2 separate regions of the Homo sapiens genome follow, and region 2 is linked to region 1. Evidence: fine-mapped expression QTL. A gene starts in region 1. The other region holds a variant in brackets. All regions are shown on one strand. Distances are from middle to middle. Region 1 holds the start of CHL1 (cell adhesion molecule L1 like). Region 2 overlaps CHL1 (cell adhesion molecule L1 like).

Region 1 (2,913 bases):
GCTGCTCCTCCGGCCCGTGGTTTTTCGCAGGAGTTCCCCGGCCCTGCCCCTGGCTGAGACACTGTGGCTCGCAGCGAGCCCGGAGAGTGGGAACGGAGGGGCTGGCTTTCCCCAGCCTCCCGGCTCCAATCCCTGCTCCCCAAATTAATCACTTTCTCCGTGCTGCCTCCCCACGCACACTCACACTCCAAAAAAAAAAAAAAAGCGAGAGAAAGAGAGAGGCACAAAGAGGAAGAAGGGACCATCCGCGACCGGCATCTCCAGCCCCCCGGGCTCCGCTACCAGGAGCCATGGCAACCACGGCCCCCGGCGCGCCCTCTCGCCCCTCGGCGGTCTGGGGAGGTGGAGCTCTAGCCCCTCTCTGGGTTTTCGTGCTCCCCAACCCCACAACCCCACGGTCCATGGATTCCCCGCTCCAGGCTGGCGGCATTTTCGGAACCCCCCCCGGGCTGGGATCTAGAATCCTCTCCTGAGAGGAGGAGCCACACAGGGGCAGTGGACTGGGGGGGTCTGAGCCCCACACACCAGGCGGTGTCCAGGGGAGCGAGGGGCGCGGTGGGAGACAGAGGCCGGGACTGACCCCCAGACCAGCTAGACCTCGGAGCCCCACCCGAGAGAGGGCGGAGATCTACGGGGGGGTCTGGAATCCTCCTCAGAGAGCAGCGAGGGATGGGGTGGCGGAGGCTGGAAGCGGGAGGGCCAACCTACCGGCGGCCGGCGGGCGTGAGTGGGACCCGGCGGATTCGGGCGCCCGGTGTGCTCCGTCGACTGACCCCGAGCTGTCCGAATCCGGCCTCGGCCACCGGGGGCGGGGCGTGAAAAGGGGGCGTCTCCTCCCGGGTGCAGGCTGAGGGGCCCGGACCACCCCCACTGCGGACGAGGGACCCTGACCGCGCCCCGCTTCCTTTCCATAACGAGTGGACCCCTCCCGGAGCACCTTCAGCCCTTCCTCCACGGGAGACCCCCCCAGCGCCGGCACGAGAGATGCCAGCGGACCCCCACCCCTGACACACCTGCGCCGCCTCCGAAACGCGATCTGTCCGGCGCCTCCCCTCGGGCGCCTTCTCCCCCGAGCCGGCCGGGAGCCGGGACGGGGGCGCGCAGGGTCCGGTAAGCTCTGGGCGGATCCAGGGAGGGTCTCGCCGGCCGCTGCCCGCTGGTCCGCACCCGGGGCTGTCCGCGGAGGTCCCGCCCGTCCCCTCCCGCCGCTGGCTCTCTGGCCGCGGGAAGGCTGGAGCCGTTCTGGCTGGCACCGGGGTCTACGCCCTCCTGCCGGAGGCTGGCTCTCGCCTCTGCTCCCTTCCTGGGTTCTGCGCCGCCACCCCTCACCCACGCCGCTTATCTTCCCTCCCTTTGCACGCTCCCGCGGGACAGGGAGAGTTACAGGCTTCAGACTTTATCTCGTTGTGGAAAGCAAGAGACCAAGCCAAAAACTTTGGTCGTGCTTTTCAACATCTCCGGTCAAAAGAGGTAGGATCCCTGCTCGTTTATCTGCAAAAGCGACATTTAAAAGAAACGCCCCCCACCCCCTCCCCGATGGTTTCACTCGGTTCATGTTGCACACACAGGTCGCCAATCTGCTTTTCTCCCATTGCTGCGTCTTAGAGGGGTGTGGTGCCATGTACGTATTAAAAATTGTCTTCTTGCTTTCCTTCATTTAAGGGCGTGGTGGGGCTTGCTATTGAATTTACAAAATATGCTACGACCATCCGCTGTCAAATTGTGCATGCTTAAATTTACAGATCTTCTACTATCTCACAATTTTTGCCCTAATACAGAGTCTATAATGTTACCACATCGTTTCGTAACGTTTTTCCTACTTATCCTTTATTAATTCACTATTGGAGAGGAAAGCCTTCTGTACTCATATTCAGTGCAAAAAGCCAGTTCTGATGCCTTATGAATCCACAAACACATAAAAATATTTTAGGATTCCAAAATTCATATGGAAAAATTATAATTTTTAGCACTACATTTGATTTATATGCCACTTTATTTTTTTTCCATTATGGTGGTATTTTCCAAAATTTTTACAGGATACCACTTTTGAAAATCCTGTTGAATGCAAGTCCTCTTTGTTGGTAAGAGAATTATTGACTTCTAATTTTTACTCCACTAAGGCTGTGAGATTGACCTTACAGCCTCGTTTTGTTTTCATCTAGCTCATTGAACAATGAGGATATTTAGCTCCCCTCAGAGCTACCCTCAGAGTTGGATGAGCTATCCTCAGAGTTGGATGCCACCACCGGGAGCAGCAAAAGCGAAGGCAACTCATGATTCTGCCTCAGAAGCAATCGAATAAAATATTTTGAAAATGAATGAATGGACTTTTAAATTTTAATCATCGCTAACCTTGGGGCCTCGATTCTGTCAATTTGTGTGTGGGCACAGTTCTTACCAACTGCCTTGGCAAATTGTGAATGCAAGTGAGGGCAGGATTTGTCCTAAGTTTAAATTGTACTGCTGGAGTGATTTCTTTTGCCTGAGGCATCATTATTCACGTGGCATGTTTTCTAAAGTAGAAACAAAGATAGAATATTAAATAAAATTCCAACAGGGGGAAATACTCTGCCTGTAGAAAAACATTTCCAAGGTCAAGGAACCACAAGAGAACAACAAAGCGAAGTTGGTCTCAGGAGTTTACCATCTTCTGGGTGAACAAACATCAGCTGAGCAAGGGACTCGGAACTCCATTTTGGCCAGATGAACAGAGTACTCTTAAATATATAGCTCCTTCTTTCTTGGTGATTTGTTTCTTGACAATAGAATCATTATTTACAAAACAAATATTTATTGAGCAGCTACTATTTAATCAATCACTGGTCTGGGTGCTGGGCTCAGTAGGAAACTCAATAGGCATGGCCAGTAGCTTTTTAAAAAATCAAATACCCTCCAAATATATTAGACAGTACC
Region 2 (2,913 bases), 22 kb before region 1:
TTTAAGTTCAGGGGTACATGTGCCAGTTTGTTACACAGGTAAACCTGTGTCATGTGGGTTTGTTGTACAGACTATTTCATTAAGCCTAGTTCCCATTAGTTAATTTTTCTGATCCTCTCCCTCCTCCCACCCTCCACCTTCAAGTAGGCCCCAGTGTGTGTTGTTCTCCTCTAAGTGTTCATGTTTTCTCATCACTTAGCTTCCACTTATAAGTGAGAACATGCAGTATTTGGTTTTCCTGCATTAGGTCCTGCATTAGTTTGCTAAGGATAATAGCCTCCAGCTCCATCCATGTCCATGCAAAGGACATGATCTCATTCTTTTTTAATGGCTGCATAATAGTCCATGGTGCATATGTACTACATTTCCTTTATCCAGTCTGTTATTGATGTCATTGATGGGCATTTAGGTTGATTTTATGTCTTTGCTATTGTGAATAGTGCTGCAATGAACATACATATGAATGTGTCTTTTTAACATAATGTAAAAATTTATATTCCTTTGGGAATATATATAGTAATGGGATTGCAGGATTGAATGGTATTTCTGTCTTCAGGTCTTTGAGGAGTCACCACACTGTCTTCTACAACGGTTGACCTAATTTACACCCCCGCTAACAGTGTACTTTCTCTTCCTTTTTCTCCACACAACCTCACCTGCATCTTTTATTTTTTGACCTTTTTTTTTTTGACAGAGTCTCACTCTGTCGCCCAGGCTGGAGTGCAGTGGCATGATCTCGGCTCACTGCAAGCTCCACCTCCCGGGTTCATGCCATTCTCCTGCCTCAGCCTCTGGAGTAGCTGGGACTACAGGTGCCCGCCACCATGCCCAGCTAATTTTTTTGTATTTTTTATTTACTGACGGGGTTTCACCGTGTTAGCCAGGACGGTCTCGATCTCCTGACCTCGTGATCCGCCCGTCTTGGCCTCCCAAAGTGCTGGGATTACAGGTGTGAGCCAGTGCGCCCGGCCTACTTTTTGACTTTTCAATTATAACCATTCTGACCGGTGCGAAATGGTATCTCATTGTGGTTTTGATTTGCATGAAACGTGTTCTCTTTCTTTGCCCATTTTTCCTTTCTGTTGTCTTTTTCCTCATAAATTTAAAAAAGTATTATTTTGTTCTTTATGTCATTCTTTATATCACAATAAATCATATCATTTCACATAGATTTGAAAGTTAGCATCCAAAGCTTAAACTTTAATTTTTATAGAAGAAGAACACATTTAGCAGCACTTGACATCATCAATATATGGGCTAAAACTTAGGGCAGGAATTTGTGCTAAAGTCAACATAATTTATTTTCTATTCAGTAAACCTTTCAATGATCAAATGATTCCTTCTTTGGAAAAGAGGATGTGGGTAACATCTTCTCTACTGACTTGAGGAAACTTAAATATGATACACAAAAGTATATTAAGGAAAAAGATATCCAAACTCCATTTGATACCATTATCATGCCATTTTAATCAACACACATCATGCTTATGATCAATAATTGAATGGAAAGGGTCTTTCATCTTCTAAAACATAACTGCTGTAAGAATTAATAAGCAGGTTCTGTCAGTGCAGAAAGTATTCAGGAATTCTTTCTGCAAGAGCACACCCTCATCCAATCCAGAAGCTCACAAAATTTCACCCATCCCAGCCCTGAGGTCTTTTGGAAATCACCCAATCACTCTGCTATTAAGAAGCCTGAAAACACGTATCGTAAACCTTGTCATCTCACAAC[C/T]ACTTATTCTTTGATTGTTTCCTGTGGAGGTTTCCTGTGCAGGGGCTGTGGGTTATAATTTACAACAGCCCCCAAAGCACCCATATCATCTTAATAGAAGTACAATAAATAAAATAATAAAACAGCCTTGCTCATAAAATCCCCTTTATCACATCCTCATTCAAGCCTAAGCTGTTCTTATCTCCCTTGCGGAATACCAACTGGTCCTCCTCTCCATTGCAATCTACTCTGCATGCAACAGCCAAGGTTTGTTTTGTTTGTATATATAAATATATATACATATAGACACAAATTACATCAACTAGCTTAACTGTTGGAATTCCTTTGAAGTTCCTATACTGCACTTAAATCCATATTGTTGTCCATGACCTACAAGGCCTTATGTGATCTGCCCTAAGCTCACCTTGTGCCAGCTGGTTTCTCCCACACTCACTGCACTGCAGGTTCTAGCCTTCTGTCCATTCCAGATGGGGCCAAATTGATTCCTCCACACCGCCTCTCCACTTGCTTCCCCTCTGCTGGGAACTCTGCTCTTCTGGCTCTTTTCCTGTTTGCCTTCTTCCCTTTCTGGCTCAGCGTGAAAGGCACCTTCTCAGATAATCCTTTCTAAAGTAAGTTTCTCCTCCCATTTTTTTCTATCACAGTCCTTTGTTTCTTTCCCGTAAAGATTTATTTATTGGCTAACATTCTTAGTAATGGCAACTCTGGGAGGGCAGGAAATCTGTCTTCCTCACAGTGCCTGGGATTTGTTCGCAGCTCAATAAATATTTGATGCATGAATAAATGAACCAATGGCTTCTTAGAATCAGAGCTACACATGCACACACACGTATACACATATACCCTTTGCTTGGAGAGACCTGTTTTCTTTCCCTGTTTTGTATCTGGGAGCACAGCTGCAACCCCATGGGTAATTTTTTTTCTGTTATTGTTCTTTTTTCAGCATGAATCTATTAATAATCAAACCAAATTATTCAGGAATTGCACAGAAGGTAATTTCTTCCCCAATGCACACAGGACCAAAGGGTGGGGGAAAATCAAGCTACTGAAAATTTCCTTCCCCTGCAGACTTTTAAACTGCTAATCAGCACAAGCAGCTTGTAGCAGACTGAGCACAAAAGGTTGCTGAAATGGCACATAACTAATTCCAGGTGATTTAATATCTTATGCTGCCTTAGTGA

The links.
Region 2: its variant is fine-mapped to the expression of CHL1 in blood mononuclear cells (TOPMed, PIP 0.98).

Annotation. Positions count from the first base shown.
Region 1 is chr3:195,164-198,076 of GRCh38, reverse strand. CHL1 (cell adhesion molecule L1 like) reads right to left here and starts at 1,314. Exons shown (of 28, transcript NM_006614.4): 1 at 1,014-1,314. CHL1-AS2 (CHL1 antisense RNA 2) reads left to right here and starts at 736. Exons shown (of 4, transcript NR_144487.1): 1 at 736-1,110; 2 at 1,569-1,621; 3 at 2,037-2,081; 4 at 2,163-2,319.
Region 2 is chr3:216,923-219,835 of GRCh38, reverse strand. The region is part of intron 1 of CHL1 (cell adhesion molecule L1 like); the gene reads right to left. Among named protein-coding and RNA genes, the nearest start is that of CHL1-AS2, 21 kb to the right of the region's middle. The variant C/T (reference allele first, on the strand shown) is at 1,733.